Linked DNA regions of Homo sapiens: region 2 is linked to region 1. A link means that fine-mapping ties the variant in region 1 to the expression of a gene that starts in the linked region. Tissue or cell type: whole blood. Region 1 holds a variant in brackets; the other region holds the start of a gene. All regions are shown on one strand. Distances are between the middles of the regions.

The links. PIP is the estimated chance that this variant, and not a neighbour inherited with it, causes the effect.
Region 2: it holds the start of SEMA7A, and the variant in region 1 is fine-mapped to the expression of SEMA7A in whole blood (TOPMed, PIP above 0.99). The same link has a PIP of 0.9 or more in blood mononuclear cells and fibroblasts.

The regions. Positions count from the first base shown.
Region 1 is chr15:74,395,196-74,403,294 of GRCh38, reverse strand. No RefSeq gene overlaps it. Among named protein-coding and RNA genes, the nearest start is that of MIR6881, 12 kb to the left of the region's middle. RefSeq lists enhancers at 1-208, 1-353, 574-623, 1,353-1,853, 3,134-3,363 and 9 more and a silencer at 119-328. The variant G/T (reference allele first, on the strand shown) is at 3,224.
Region 2 is chr15:74,430,696-74,438,794 of GRCh38, reverse strand. SEMA7A (semaphorin 7A (JohnMiltonHagen blood group)) reads left to right here and starts at 4,837. Exons shown (of 14, transcript NM_003612.5): 1 at 4,837-5,054. The coding sequence starts at 4,877. RefSeq lists silencers at 4,695-5,204, 5,255-5,404, 5,555-5,674.

The DNA.
Region 1 (8,099 bases):
CACTGCTGAGGACACATCCTGGTCAGAACCTGAGATACGGGGCTTGGGGACCTGCCCTGCAGAAGGGTTTCCTGGTGGCAGGAGTGAGTGTGCAGGTGACACTGCTGGCCCATGACGGTTCCACATTCTGAGTGAGCAGGGTCCCAGCTGCAGGAAGTGGTGGCGGCAGAAGTCACAGTCACCTTCCTCTCCTGGGGGCCGGCTTTCGGGGAAGCCAGGGGAAATGCTGAGCTCATGGGCTGTTCTTCCCACAGCTGGTTTCCAAGGCCTTTTCTTGTCCCTGACATCTCTCCACAGCCTCACCACAGCCCTCAGAGGCGGAATGCCATCGTGGGCATTACTGTCCCATTAGGCAGAGCAGGTGCAAGGCCAGCCTCTTGCTCTGAGCTACCTGCCCCTTCAGAGCCTGGCCTAGAACCTGGACTCCTGCCTCTTCCCACCTCCACACAACACCCTCCCCCAAGGAAACAGGGGTGGGTGGAATCTAGAAGCTTCTCAGGTGAGGTGAAGGTGTTGGGAAGGCATTAGAACTTGAGGTTTTCTCACCTCCACCAGCCCCTCATTTCCCAGCAGATGTGAGACCTCCTTGGTGTGCATGTCAGCCCGTGATAGGTCAGTCTCAGGACGTTTCCCCCAGCATGGGGCCTGTCAGAGGAGCTCCCCCTCCCCAGCCACCACAAGAGCCCAGTCACTGGGAGCGCCCCTGCACCCTGGAAGGCATCCGAGGGATCCAAGCCCATTCCTCAGCTTGAGGAAATGGCAGCCCCTGCAGAGGGCCCTGACTGGCCCTGTGAGTGTGGAGGTGGGGGCGTCCTAGCCCTGATACATCCTTTCCTGAACTCCACCCCAATCATGGGTATAAACACAGGCAGAACATCAATGAAGTGAGAGGAGAGTTGTCTGCCTTGGCAGCCAGCACCAGGGAAGATGGAACTGTGGCTTGTCTACCTGTCTGGCCTTCTGTTGTTCTCTGTCTCAGTCTCATTCTGTTTCCCTGTTGGTCTCTGTTTCTATTCTCTCTCTCTCTGTCTCTCCTTGTTCCTATTTCTCTCTCTGGCTTGACCTCTTATGCTCACTTACACAAAACAAGCATGCATATATACAACAGGTGGGCACATGGGACCACACGTATGACCTGCTCACCCATACACACGTACAAACATGCACATCTGTGCACACATGCATCCACACAGAATCCTCCCTCCTCAGATCCTGTATGTATATTCAGAGAAGGGGGTGGTGGTGAAGCTCTCTTTCCATGTATCCACAGGCTCAGGGAGAACCCACAGTTAATTTCCAGGCTGTTTCTGCCTCCCTGTCACTGGCAACTGGGAGCTTGGAGGAATAGGCTGGGATCCCCACTGATATCTGGGACTCTGGTGGGGATCTCTGGGCCATCATAACCTGCCAGTGAAGAGCATGAGAGGGGAGGGGGAGTCTCCGGAGGTGAGCAGAAGGGACGAGATAGGAAGATGAGATGTTGAGTTAGCAGTGCACTGGCCTGGAGGGCTCTCTGGCTCCTTCCCCTCCTGATGCTCTTCCTGGTGGTCCTGCTGAGATGCCCTATGACCCACCTGAGAGCTGGGGACCAGGGACGACTGGACCACAGGAGGCCCCAGAGGGAGGCGCCTGCAGGGAGGGAAGCCTCCTCAGTCATTTGCCCCACCCACAGAAAGCTGGAGGCTGGACGTCCCTAGGGTGTGTGGCCATGAGGAGAGAGCCTTTATTCCTGTCCTTTCAGGACAATGGGCCAGATGAGGCCCCACCAGGTACTTGGGTTTCCTGGGTGGGTCGGGGCTTTCCTGGAATGCTCAACCTTCCTGGTGTCCCAGGGTTGAGGTAACTGCATGGGAAGAGGGTAGGCAGGAAGCCCTTACGGTCTGTAAGGACCTGTCCTGCCCTGGAGTCTGGGTTCAGGTGGTCATCAGAGCCTGCACGCCTCCACCACTCTCAGCATGTGGGCCTGCTCCCTGTTCAGAGCAACCCCCTTACTGAGCACCTGTGTGGTGCAGGCTGTGCTGGGAGGAGGCTTGTGAAGAGCAGGTGAGCTAGGACTGGGCACCAGAGAAGGAGGAGCCCCTTTCGCTGCTGGGGCAGGAGCTAGAGCCCCCACGGGCATGTTTTGGTGTGGGGACAGATTCAACAGGAGCCCAGGGATCTTTCTGAAATGTGACACTTGCCTCCACCCTCCTTGCCAGAAAGGGACATTGCTCAGCCACCTGGCTCAGCTTCAATAAGCAAGTAGTAATAGTGGTGAACAAAAGCCAAATGCGTAAGTCACGCACCTGCCCGGGACTGTTCTGAAACTTTGTGTGAATTGTCTTGGTTAGTTTTCTCACCAGCCCTTTGAGGTTGATACTATTACTATTGTCTCCATTTCATAGTTCAAAGAACTGAGGCTGAGAAAGAGTAAGTAGTTTACCAAAATTTCACAACAAAAAGATGCATCTAATCTTTGTCCTCAAGAAACAGGGGTTCTACTTTTACTTTTTTTTTTTTTTTTTGAGATAGGATCTTGTTCTGTTGCCTAGGCTGGAGTGCGGTGGCACGATCTTGACTCACTGCAACCTCTGCCTCCCGAGTTCGAGTGATTCTCTTGCCTCAGCCTCTTGAGTAGCTGGGATTACACCACGCCTGGTTAATTTTTTTTTTTTTTTAATTTTTAGTAGATACGGGGTTTCACCATGTTGACCAGGCTTGTCTCAAACTCCTGACCTCAAGTCATCCACCTGCTTCAGCCTCCCAGAATGCTGGGATTACATGTGTGAGCCACTGTGCCCGGCCCAAGCTCCTGCTCTCTTTGCTGGGTTCGCGGTTAATACAAGTGATACACACAGCAGAGAGAAGCAGTCAGGTGGGCCACTCTGGCAAAATGGCAAAGATCAGGTCTGGGACAGAGTCTGCCCCAGTGACCAGGGTTCCCTACACAGAGTCCATTAGCACCCGAGTCTTGGACCTCAGAGGAAGATGATGGGATCACTTGTTCCAAGACACCCTGAGGCTCTGAGACAGGGAGGTCACCTGTCAATCTGTCCTACTTGGGACCGAGGTGGGCTGAGAGGCCCTCTGCTTGGGCTGCAGGGCCCCTGCAGGGGTTGAGGATCAGCTTTCTCCTCTCATTGGTTCCTGCCAGAACCATCTTAGGGAGCAGCTGCTGTGGGGGCTGCTCTCCCACAGCAGGGAACCCACATCCTGCCCCATTACAGCAAAGTGAGCATCCGGT[G/T]GGGGAAGGACCCCCACGGGGGGCCTGAAGCTGATGAAAGTTGAGTCAGGGTGACTCAGTGGAAGGCCTCTTCCCACTGCTGTCTCCAAGTGGAATACTGTGGTCAGACCAAAGGAAGAACTTCCCAACCTCTGGTCCCACATCTGGAATGCATGCCAAAAAGGGGTCTCTGAGAGAACATGGCAGTTTGGCAGTTCTCAGGCTCTGTCATGCTACATACTGACCTCAGAAAGACCCCGGGAGGCAGACTGCAGATGGGGAAACTGAGGAAAGGGACAGGACCTGTACCAGAGCTGGGACTGTAGCTGGACCTTGAGTCTGCTCATCATGGGGGCACCTGCCCAAGGAGAGGGCAGCACCCCACTGCAATGCCCCCTATGTTTCCCCAGAGCCCCTCTCCTCCCATCTGCTCCTCAGAGGCCTTGTCTCGAGGTAGGAGTGGAGTGAGGGGGTGGGGGTTTCCCTGAGCAAAGAATAGTTCTCCTGTAGGATGCTGTTTTAAGAAACACACAAATAGACAAGCCACCCAGCCAGTCAGACAAGTTTGGCTTTCCAAACCTGTCCCTGGGGTGGCTGTTGTTGCCTTTTTATTTATTTATTTATTTATTTATTTATTTATTATTTATTTATTTATGTATTTATTGAGTAAAGGTTCATATAACACAAATTTTGCCATTTCAAAATGCACATTGCAGTGGTTTTGAGTATATTCATAATGCTCTATGACACCTACCTCTAGCTAACTCTGGAACATTCCATCACCCCCAAGAAACCTCGTGCCTGTTAGCAGTTACTTCCCCTTTCCTTGTCCCCCAACTAATGTACTTTCTGTCTCTATGCATTTGTCTCTTCTGGACATTTTTTAAAAAATTAAATTAAATAATTTATTCAGAGATGAGGTCGCGCTATGTTTTCCAGGCTGGATTCAAACTCCTGGGCTCAAGTAATCCTCCTGCCTGGGCCTCCCAAATAGTTGGGACTACAGGCGTGAGCCACTGCATCCAGCTTCTAGGCATTTCATATAAATGGAATTGTACATGTCACCTTTTGTGTCTGACTTCTTTCACTTAGCATACTGTTTTCAGGGGTTATCATGTGGTAGCCTGAACCAGGACGCCCCATCTTCTCACTGCTGAATGAGAGCTCATTGTGTGGCTAGGCCATGTTGCTTATCTGTGCCTCAGTTGATGGACATGGACATTGTTCCCACTTTTCGGCTGTTATAATAATATCCAGAATAACGCTGTATGAATATTTGTGTACAAGTTTTTGTGTGATCAGATGTTTTCAACTCTTTGGAACATCTATTTACCTGGGAGTGGGACTGCAGAATCCCATGGTAACTCTGTGTTCAACGTTTTGGGCAACTGACAAACTGCTTTCCACAGAGGTGATACCATTTTACATCCCCGCCATCAGAGTGTGAGGGCTCTAATCTTGCCACAGTCTCACCAACACTTGTTATTTTCTCTGCCTTTATTCTTTCAACACACACACACACACACACACACACACACACAGAGAGAGAGAGAGAGAGAGACATTGAGACAGGGTCTTGCTCTGTCACCCAGGCTGGAATACAGTGGTGCAATTTTGGCTCACTGCAATCTCCGTCTCCTGGTCTCAAGCAATCCTCCCACATCAGCCTCCCGCGCAGCTGGGACTGCAGGTGCATGCCACCACACCCAGATAATTTTGTGTATCTTTTGTGGAGATGAGGTTTCACCACATTACCGAGGCTGGTCTCGAACTCCTGAACTCAAGAGATCTGTTGGCCTTGGCCTCCCAAAGTGCTGAGATTTCAGACATGAGTCACTGTGCCTGGCCTTCAACACATATTTTGTTGAGCCCCTGCTTGGTGTCAGGCCTGTGCTGGGGTAGGGGATGCAGGGGTCCAGGCTGCTCTTGCAGAGCCAAAGGGACATAGATGTGACCCAGTGGTGGCTGGTGCTGAGTGGAGGGAAGGAGGAGGTGAAGTGATGGGAGTGACCTGCATGGACAGTCAGGGCAGGCTTCAGGGAGGCAGCGTTTGTGCCCTGGGAAGGTCTTGGCTGTTACTGTCCAATCCCAGCCTCTGTCCCTTCCCAAGTCCCCAGGATGAGTGGTAGTCAAGGTGCTGGGTGCCTCAGTGTTATAATGTGAAAAGTCTCAGCCTGGCCTGAAACTCACCCATTAGAGCCCTCACCTGCAGATTCTATGCCCACAGCCCAGGCCAGATGAGGAAACTGTGGCTCAGAGAAGGGAATGACTTCCCAAAGGTCATCCCAAAAGGTAGTGGCAGAGGGAGACCAGATCCCTGATCTACAGATGCCCAGCCTGGGGTCCTTTTAGCTCTGATGGGGTGAGGCCTGGGGCAGCATGAGGCTGGGAGCAGGGAAGATGGGGGAGGGCAGGAGGCTGAGAGAGCCCAGGTGAGAGAGGGCCAAGCTTGAAAGGTTTTCCCAGGCTGGGGGAGAGGCCCTGGTCAGGATGTGTATGGGTAAGGGGTGAGATACAGAGGTCCCTGGGGCGGGCCCAGACCTGTTTCTCCTTTGCCCAGTTTCAGTTCTGTTTTGCTTGTCCCCTTCTGTTTTGCGTTCAGAGTGGGTTGGGGTGGTGGTGGGGTGACTCTTAGCCCCCATCTTGATCCCCATGGTGGGGGATGAGGAGATGGGCTTAACTCCAGACACCACTTTCAGTCCCCCTTTCTACCCCCACCCAGGGTCCCCCAGTCTAAGGGCGGATGCGGGAGGCCTGGCTGGGTCCGTCCTCACAAGGAGGGGCAAGCTGGGCAGAGCCTGGCTGGCCTCCCCTGCTGCCATACCTTGGAGCCCACAGCCTCCAGTGGGTAGTGACTGGCCCCAAATCTAGACATAGGTAATGTTTGCTTAGTGAGCTCATGTGCTATGGGACTAAGTTGAAATGCTCTGCCCCTTACTCATACACCCTTATTGACTCACAGGTCCCCAAGGTGAGTCACGCCCACATCAGGTATTGTGGGTGTATGAGACATACACCCACTGCAAACTGGGATGCAGTTTCCAGTCCCCCTGCCAGCATGCTTAGGGCACCAGGAAGGGCAGTGGGTGCTGATGGGCCCCAGATTTACCAAAGATGACTCCAGTTGGAGGCCTTGGACTGCTGTGGGCTTGTCAGGGGCCTTTGTGGCCCTGGGAGGAGGTGTCTGGGGCTGCTCCAATGTCTTTGGGGTCTCTCAGGTTGGGGTGGATCCTTTGGGAGTGCTGGGCACTGGCAGAGACTCAGGCCGCAGGGAGGGGACTTGCTTTCCCTCTGGCTCCCTCAGGAGGCCTCAGCTGCAGTGCTGGGTGCTGGCTGTCCTCAAACCCATGTCCTCCAGCCCCCTGACGTCTTCTCATTTCCTCATCTCAGGTTTCAGCCCACTCAGGCTGACGTTGCCTTCTGATCTCGTTTTTCAGCAGCCCCCAGGTCTCCGTGGCTGCTGTGCAGAAACGCGAGTGGTTGGGGGAAGTCCACATGATGCTGGCCTTGAAGAGCCTCCTGCCAGCCAGGCCTCAGGAGGGCTCACTTCCCCATTGCAGAACTCCTGCGGAGACCCAGGGGCAATTTCTGGTCTTTAGCACAGGGCCTCTGAGGGGCTGGCTTTTCCTAGGGGCTGCCCTGGTGCTGTGGCACCGTGGGGTGGGGGATTTCGGCAACGCCAGGGGCTCGACATGGCTGAAACTTCTTTGGACAGCTCAGCTACCCCAGGTAGAAGCCTCTGTCCCTCCCGGAGCCAGGCCTGTCCCAGCTTCGAAGTCAGATGTTGGGACATGCTGTATGCCTTTGGGACGAGTAGCCCCGTGGGCTCAGAGCTCTGACAGTGAACCCAGATGGGGTTGCTGTGAGGCACTGGGCGGGTCTAAACAAACAAGGTGCTGTGTGAGTGCATAGGTGCGAACAGGCTGCTCCAAGGGACTCTTGAATTGTCTTTGCGGACAAGTGGGAGTTAGCTGGAAAAGAAGGAGCTGCGTGGTCAGAGGCGTGGAGGCAGGCAGTGGAATAACCCATGTGGAGAACTGCAAGCATTTCCACATGACTGACTGGAGTGTGAGGGGGTGTAGGAGACCGGAGGGCAGGCGGTGGGCAGGGGGCTGGAGAAGGACCCTGAGGGCTCAGCCAAGGAGCAGGACTTTTCCTGAAGCAGCAGAGGCAGAGAGCCAGGCCCCTCCTGAGCCCTCTCACTTCTGTGCAGGGACACCTCCCAGTGAAGTAGGCCTGGGCCTCAGAGGCACCCCGACCCTGGCTGCTGACTCAGCTCTGCCTCTGTGAGGGCCAGTGGGGGGCTGCCCACATGAGCCACGGAGCCATGGCATGGCCTGGGGCTGGCTCTCCTGGGCTGCCCTCCACCCAAGGTCTTGAGGTTCTGCCATTCCCTCTTCAAGGGGTCTGACCATGCAGCCCTAGGTGGGGACGGACCCTGTAGCCTGCTCACTGGTGCCTGGGGTGCCACTGCCAGTCCTGCTCTGGCGCTGATGGGGAGGCAGAGGCAGCCGCCAGAGAGAAGATCCCAGGTGGGGAGAATGTGGGCAAGAGGCCATGCTCCCTCCTGCAGCCTTCATGAAGGCTCAGAGTGTTCTGGAAGTGTTTGGGGGCTGGCCTCATCTCCTCGGCTAGCTCCAACGCCTCCCGGCTCGGCCCCCACATATCACGCTCAAGTGGACCGATCCTGACTGAGGCAGAAAGTAGAACTGGCCCCTCACCATGCGCTCCAGCCCTACTGCTGAAGGAGGCAGGATGGCACAGAGGTGAGGGCGTGAATTCTGCATCACTCAGACTTGGGGCTAGATCCTGGGTCTGGTGGGGAGCACACTGGGCTGGCAAGGCCCGTCGTGCTTTACTAGCTACCTTTGACCCAGTAATCCCACTTCCAGGAGTC
Region 2 (8,099 bases), 36 kb before region 1:
TTCAGGTGAGCTGAGTGCCCTGCTAGAAGGAAAAAAAATCTGTCTCTTCTCTGCTGACTGAATATTCCTCTTTGGATTTTTCCTTTGTCTTACTTAACTTGGCTGGCCCTACTTAGATCTTAGCAATTTAGGTAGGGTTGATCAGATAAAAATGCACGTAGAATGATTAGGATAGAAAGCAGAGATGTAGGCATGGGATGCTGCTGGGAGCACGACCCTCAGGGCTAAGAAGGTGGTGGCAGTTCTGAGAAGTTCTCCATTCACAGTGGGCTGAACTGATGTATGGAAGGTGGTGATCTCTGAACTGGTCTAGGAGGAAGAGGCAGGCACTTGAGGGGAATGTCCTGGCTGAGGTTTGGAGGCAGGCAGAGCACTGAGGGGAGGGTGAGGCATGGCCTGGGCAGCCTGAGAAGTGTCTTCTTGGCACTCCTTGCCTGACATGGTCTGCCAAGAGTTGGGCCAGGTATAGTGACTGTCGTGCCTGTGCCTGTGAGATAGTCACAGTGGGCACATGGTATGTTGGGGGTCCCAGATATGGGCCCCAGACCTGTTTTTATTTGCCCATATCCATCCTCCTTAACTTTTGAATTATTTGCCAATATTTTAAAAGAGAGAGTTTCAACAAAGAGTCAATTTTCTTTTCTTTTTTTTGATGGAGTCTCGCCCTGTCACCCAGGCTGGAGTGCAATGGCGCAATCTCAGCTCACTGCAACCTCCACCTCCCAGGTTCAAGTGATTCTCCTGCCTCAGCCTCCCAAGTAGCTGGGATTACAGTTGCGTGCCACCATGCCCGGCTAATGTTTACATTTTTAGTAGAAATGGGGTTTCACCATTTTGGCCAGGCTGGTCTCGAACTCCTGACCTTGTCAGATAAAAATGCATGTAGAATGATTAGGACAGAAATCATTGACCTTGTGATCCACCCACCTCGGTCTCCCAAAGTTCTGGGATTACAGCCGTGAGCCACCACCCCTGGCCTCTTTTTTCTTTTCTTTTCTTTTTTTTTTTTTTGAGACAGAGTTTCACTCTTGTGTCCCATGCTGGAGTGCAGTGGTGCGATCTTGGTTCACTGCAACCTCCGCCTCCTGGGTTTAAGTGATTTTCCTGCCTCAGCCTCCCAAGTAGCTGGAATTACAGGCGCTCGCTACCATGCCCGGCTAATTTTTGTATTTTTTAGTAGAGATGGGGTTTCACCATATTGTGCAGGCTGATCTTGAACTCCTGACCTCAGGTGATCCACCTGCCTTGGCCTCCCAAAGTGCTGGGATTACAGGCATGAGCCACCGTGCCCAGCCCTCAATTTTCAGCTTCTCTTGAAAATCATACTACCTTTCACTACTGGGTTTACTTCTTCATGGTTCCATGGGCTGGAGCTGAGTCGAAATTGCCTTATAGACAGCACAGGGTTCTGCAGACCCCAGCCCACCCACTCCCCTCGTTCTCATCAGTTCCAAGTCTCTGCCCCCTGCAATAGGTAGTAATGGTGGTAGGCAATAGGAATTGTTGCTGCTGTTAGTAGCCAGGAGGTCTGAATGGCCACCAAGCTCTGAGGCCTCAAAGAAGGGGTGGGATCTAGCATGGAGGGGGCTGTTGGGGATTGAATGCCCTCTGAGAGCTACTTCTAATCCTAAGAATTGGGATTCTTGGATCATCGTATCTGTGAAAGGAAGTGAACTGTGTGTGGGTGACCTCACGTCTGCATATGTTATCTCCTCACGGAATCCTTCTATCTCCCACAGGCCTCTTGTTTGAGGTGGGTCACTCCTGTGAAGGCCATGTGTAGCCATGGAATCAGGGCTGAGGAGGAGGTCAGATAACTCTGGAGAATGGAAGGATGAGTTAAGTTGGACCCTGAAAGGTGAGAGGCTTTAGTTGGAATGTTGGGGGGATTGCCCGGGGCTTCTGCCACTGCTTCAAGACCATGAATCTCAGGTCTGTGTGTATCCATTTCTTTCATTCCAAAAGGAGCCTTCTTGGATTGGGCTGTGCCTCAGCTGTCCATGGGGCTCAGGAAGTGATCCTTCTCAAGGTATTTTTCTTATCGATAGAAGCCCTGCATCATTTCTTCCTCCCTCCCCTGAATGTGGAATCATGGAGAAGGGAGGGACAAGAATGTGCCTCCCCATCAGACGTGTCAGCATCCACATGTGTTGCTTCCTCTGCTGGTCCACTTCCCATCACTGGCTGTGAGTGGGAATTGTGCCCCTGTTCTTGGTCCAGGCTCAAGAGCCAGCCTTGGCCTCCAATGAGGCAGGCAGGCCTCTGACACCACCTATACCATTCTGACTTGATTTTCCTATGCTGCCTGAGGCAGGAAAGTCCATGCCTAAACTCTGGTCATAGTGCCTGCCCCACAGTCTAGCTGCCTTTCCCTTTATAAAGTTATTGCCTCAAGTCATGGGCTTAGTTCTCTCCTCCCCTGGCTGCCTGCAGCCAACCGAGAGAGTGGGCTGCCATCTCGCCTGGCCCTTTGTCCCCAGGTTGGCTGGCTTGTGGGGAGGATGGTCTTAAGTACTACTTCCTTCCCCCCTACCCCCCAGTCTGGAAAAAAAATTATCTGGCATCTACCCCAGTTTCCATCTGCTACTCTGTTGATTGGGAGATTGAGCCCATTCCCTGGTCTGCCCTCCTACTCAGCACCTGGTGACCTGGGCCCTATCTAGGTCCTTCTGGGGATGGTTTGGACCCAGACTTCAGCCACAGACAGGAGGCAGCAGTGCCAGGGTACATCACACAGAGAGAAGTCAAGGGTGTGGGTCCTTGAGAAACCACCTGAGTTTCAATCCGTCCTGCCTCTAGTTGTGCGATCCTGGCACTTCACATCCCTTGTCTGTGCCTTGATTTCTTCATTTGTAAAGGGAGGTGACTAATAGCTCCTATCTCATAGGAGTGCGAAGATTGAATGAGTTGGGAGAGGCTATGAGATGGCACAGCACATAGGAACCACAGTGTTAGCAATTGTTATTGCAGTCAGAAAACCCATCTTCGTTCTACCATTTACCGGTTGACCTCGGGCAGGTCCGTCCTTGTCCCTCCCTGTACCTCAGTTTTCTTCTCTGCAGTGGAGTTACGCTCCCTCCCTCAGTGAGAGGAAGAGAGTGGAGGACTGGCAGAGATGAGGTAGGTGAATGTGGGTTATGTGTTGTGAGTTGCCATGCACATGGGCAGTGTTATCATTGATTTTGAATCCATTTGAATTCTTAGTTCCAAAAGGCAGAGACAGGTGATTTCTTAGTTTGCCCTAGCTTTGCATAGAGAGGACAGACACTGAGGGCAATACCTGTCTAGCAGGTGAAACCGAATGTCCATCTTAGAGGCTGGCCTGGGCCAGGCTCCACTGCTGGCTTCAGGGCCACAGGCTTAGGTGCAGGCCTGAGGAGGAGCTCTTAGACTGTCCACAGCCTCCCTCTCTGGGGCAGTGTGCCCCTGTGTATCAGGAGGCTGTTGGCTTCACCCAGTGGGCCAGGAACCTCACTCTGCACTGTCTCTGGAGGTACCTTGAGTTTACCTTCCTGGCCTGCTGGGGTGCCTCAGGACTCTGAGGGAAGAAGGAGGGGACAACTGGAAGCAAAATGTAGAATGGTAAAGCCAAACTTCTTGGTAGCAAAACTTTCCTGGTTCCAGGAGGTAAAAACAACAACCAAATGGTCCTGGCCCCATGGAGCAGGGCAGAGGGCAGAGGGCAGCCAGCCCACCGCCTTTGCTGGTGTCTGCAGTGCGTGAATCGTGTCTAGGTCTGTGAGTTCTGAAGGTTGGATGTTCACCTCTACTCCTTCCTCGGCCTGTCTCCTCTCAGTGCAGCTAGACATCCAGTAAACACTAGATAAGTACTTACTGAGCTGGGTGGATTTTCCATTCATGGTTCCCTGGGGCACAAGTGGAAGTGGTAGGTCTGGGCCCTGTCTGGTCTAGAGAGAGGAGACCCTTTTACAAAGGGCAGGCACGTAGTTCTGAGAGGAGGAGCTGATGGCAGAGCTGGCTGGACTGCTCAGGTAACTGCAGAGGGTCTGGGCCTGGACCCCCCAAGGGAGTCCCCACTGAATGGTCAGGTTGCCTGAGATAGCTGAGCCCTAGGCACTTTGCGGGCAGAGATCCCCTTAAGCTGCTTTGACCCTCCCTCCCCCACAGTGAGTGGGGCACGGGGGATGCTCCCCTCTCTACTTGGGGAAGGGGCCTTCCTAATTATATCCCCCTCCACTCACATGGAAATGAGTTTGGATTTTCTGAGCGTACACCAGCTGGCTTGGGGGGAGGCAGCCCAGAAGGCTGCTGGCTGGGAAAGGGAGGAGAAAGGAGAGGGAGGGGAAGGAGCCAGGCCAAGATGAAAAATTTCCAGTGTTCTCCCAGGCAAAGCAACAGCGGGTCCCTGAGTGCTCCCCACATATCATCGTTGTGCCTGCTGGTAGGCTCAGCAGGGAGCCGTGTCCACTTAGGCGAACGCATCCTCCGAGGACCATAGTCCTCAGGGTGCGAACCACTTAGCTGGCCATAGCAAGGTTGTTGGGTGTTGGACTCCTCTGCGCCCTTGGAGAGAGGTCCTCCACGACTTCTACGCCAATCTTTTTACGGGGTGCGGGGAGTGGAACTGAGGCCCAGAGAGGGGATAGGGCCTGCCGCCCCTGGCAGAAGACCACAAGTCTGGCTTGTCCGCAGCTGGGCTTTCCCCGTAGAGTTGCCCGGGAGAGGGTGGCGAAGGTTCCCCCAGCAGTTCCGCTCTCGCTCAGGAAAGCCAGTGAGGCGAGAAAAGGCTGCGAGGGGCGGGGGGAGGGGCGGGGTGGGGTCAGCGCTGGCTCCGCCTCCTGGCGCTTGGGTCTGCCTGCGGCCGGGCGCTGGCTCAGTCTCGGCTGATTGCCGCTGTCGCTCCCGGGGCCACGGGATGACGCCTCCTCCGCCCGGACGTGCCGCCCCCAGCGCACCGCGCGCCCGCGTCCCTGGCCCGCCGGCTCGGTTGGGGCTTCCGCTGCGGCTGCGGCTGCTGCTGCTGCTCTGGGCGGCCGCCGCCTCCGCCCAGGGCCACCTAAGGAGCGGACCCCGCATCTTCGCCGTCTGGAAAGGTAGGCGGCGCCGCGCGGCCGGTCAGGCGCGGGATCAGACGCTGCGCGGGGCGGGTGCGGAGTGTGCTGCACCCGGAGGGAGTGCGTGCGCGCAGCTCTGCGGGTCCCGGGCTGTCCCCGCGCTGTCCCCGCGTGGAGCGTGTGGGTTTGGGTGAGTGTGTGTGAGTGTACACGCTGGCACACCAGAGCCGGCTGTAACGCTGCGGCGAGCGAGCGGCGGGGGCCGGAGCCCCGGCTAAGTCGCACCAAGTCCCTGGCAGCCAGGAGCCGCAACGCCCGGGCGCCAGGGGAGGGGGCGGGCCCCTCTCTCGGCCCCGAGCCACTCTGGGTCCTCTGGCTCGGGGGCTTCGGCGGAGGACCTTTCCCCGCCTGGGACCCCAACCCGGGTACCCTCCTTTTGAGCTGCGGGCTCTGCTGGCGCGCGGGGCGCAGGCTGGGCCGGCAAGGGGGGCGCGGACCCCTTGCCGCCGCCGCCGCGCTTCGGCAGCGGGAACAAAGACCCCGCCGCCTGCCCCCGCCCCCGCCCCGGCCCGGAGCTCGGGCCAGGCAAGGGGGTGGGCATCCTGCAGCGAGCGGCGGGACATGGTGCGGTGCGGCGGCTTGGGGTACCAGGGCGCTGCCTCAGCAATGCCGGGACCGGCCGCTCCCCCCTTGCCCGCACGTGGCAGTTGTCACCAGAAATCGGCTCCAGCGTTGGGGGGCAGTGCCCGTTGGGTGGGGCACGGCCGTTGGGACCCCCAGGCGGTGGATCTAGGGCGGGGGTGCAGCCTTTAGGCCAGGGTAGATAATAAGAACCTGGGGGACTGGAGTCTCCCCCAGGGCACCTCAGTTTAGACCCTGTACTATGGGACAGAAAGCCGGTTAGGCGGGGGTTTGAGGCTTTCTGCCGCGAGGAACTGATCTCCCCTCCCCTGCATTGCACACAAATGCCTCCCCGCCCCCAGTCCGATTCGGCTCTGTCCCCAAATTTGGCGTGTCTGCGGCCCCCCTGTCGTGATGGTGGGGGACTCGCAGTGGGGGCTGGGGGAACTGGTCGGGTCTGGCCCCACCGGGAGCCTTTTGATGCCTTTGGCAGTTTGCAGGGATTGCGGGAGTCTGAGCATTATCTGGGGCAGGTATTATTAGCAGAGGGGAAAAAAAACCATACACAAAACGAGTGGCCCGAACTGCCGCAGTAGCTGAGGGAATGTGACTTGCCCAAGGTCACTGAGCAGTGTGGGAGCCCAGGTGCAGGCAGGGGCTCTGATCTGGCACAGGACCAGTCCAGGTTCTGGGTTAGGGAGGGGAGAAGGATTTAGGTGGTTCAGGGACCATGAATGAGGTGCTCTGGGGACCAGCTCGGCTACCCAGCCTGAGGTGCTCCTGGAGGAAGCCGAGCAGTGCTGCTAGAGCTCCGGCCGCCTGTACATGGAGGAGGCCTGCACACCCCTCTGCCATCCCAGCTCCAGCCCAAGCTTCCTTTGCCCTCCCAGCAGCTTTGCCTTCCCTCAGTCTCCTTGGCTGTCTTGGACATCATAGCGTGTGGGCACTCTGGAGGGGACAAATGGCCACATCTGAGTGTTCTGGAATCTTTCCCTCCATCAAACCCCTTGCATTTTGACTCTGTTTGCCTGTCCCAAAGTCTTCCCATGACCCCCCACCCCCACCCCACTTAATGCACACCCACTTCTTAGCACTTAATGCATACATCCCATCCTGGGCACTTAGTTCCCACCCTGAGGCTATTTAAAGTTGCTTTCAGTCCTCTTACCCACTTTTCGAAGCTCCCAGCACAGCTCCATGGCCTACCCCCCCGCCCGCAGTTCACTGCTGTAGCCACACTGGCTGTGCCCTCTGCTTAGTAATGCACTGTTGAGCCCCGCTGGCTGGGGTCTGCCAACCGTTCACCAGTCTTGTCCAACGACAGTCTGTGGTCTCCTTCACCAGTGCCAGGTGCCCCACTGGCCAGACAGGCCCTGCCATTCACCTGCCCCCCACCCCCAGGGCCACCAGCTGGTGATGGTGTGCCCGACTGACAGCTGCCTCCTGTCTCCTGTGGGGTGACACATGGCAATCGGACAGGAATGGGCTTGGGTAGGACAAACCCAGGAACAGGGTAAGAGGGGGTCTTTCTGGAAGCCTAGAGCTCTGTCTACCAGTGGTGGGTGGGAGTATGGTGGTATCCAGGAATGACAAAATCAGGGATGGTGGTGGTTCTGGAGCCATTTCTCTATGAGGCATAGATGGGGGTTTTAGTTTTGAGTCAGGACAGCTGTGGGGACTGGAATAGGTATGGAAAGTTCTTTATTTTCTGCTGCTTGGATCCCCAAGTTCTAGAGAAAGATTAAAGCAGGGAACTCTGAGAGGGGCCCAGCCTGCACTGATCAGGGAGATTGCTGCCTCTGCAGCTTGATGAAAGTCTGGCACAGCGTAGCTCAGGCCAGGGAGAGAGATGGGCCATCATGTACCTGCTGGGTGTCCTTGAGCTCCACACTTGTCTTTGACCCTTAGAGCCTGCCAGAGCAAGAAAGGCTGTAGGGATTGTCCCCCAAGGGCTGTCACTGACACATGGGCCAGTCAAGGATGTGCATGTGTGGTCCTGATCTTCCTGTAAGCAGGAACTGTAAGGGAGTAGATTGCAGGTGAGGGCTGGGGCTTAGCAGGAGGTTGGCATGCGTTTGTAAGCTGTGCACCCCTCTTCCATTTTATCAGTGGTTGGAGGAGCTAAAGAAGGCTTGGAACCCCAAGGTCAGAGGTGAACCAGCCTGTCCATGGGGAAACAGAACCCATATCCCCAGTCTCAACCTGCCCGGCTGGTTCTGCCCTCCCTCGCTTTTGTCCAGTGAAACAACGGGATGTTATTGTTGACTTGGTGGCTGCTGGGGAGCCATTCTGGGGCTGCTCCCCAGGGCAGGAGGTTGTTGTTACCTCCTCCAGGGGATGAGGTCACATCTGGGGCTTCCCAAGCATCAGCATTTCCAGTGGAAATCCTTGCCCCCTTGGGGACTTAGATGTGTTCATCACCTTCAAGGTGAACTCCCTCCACAGAGTCTCATGGTGGGGGGG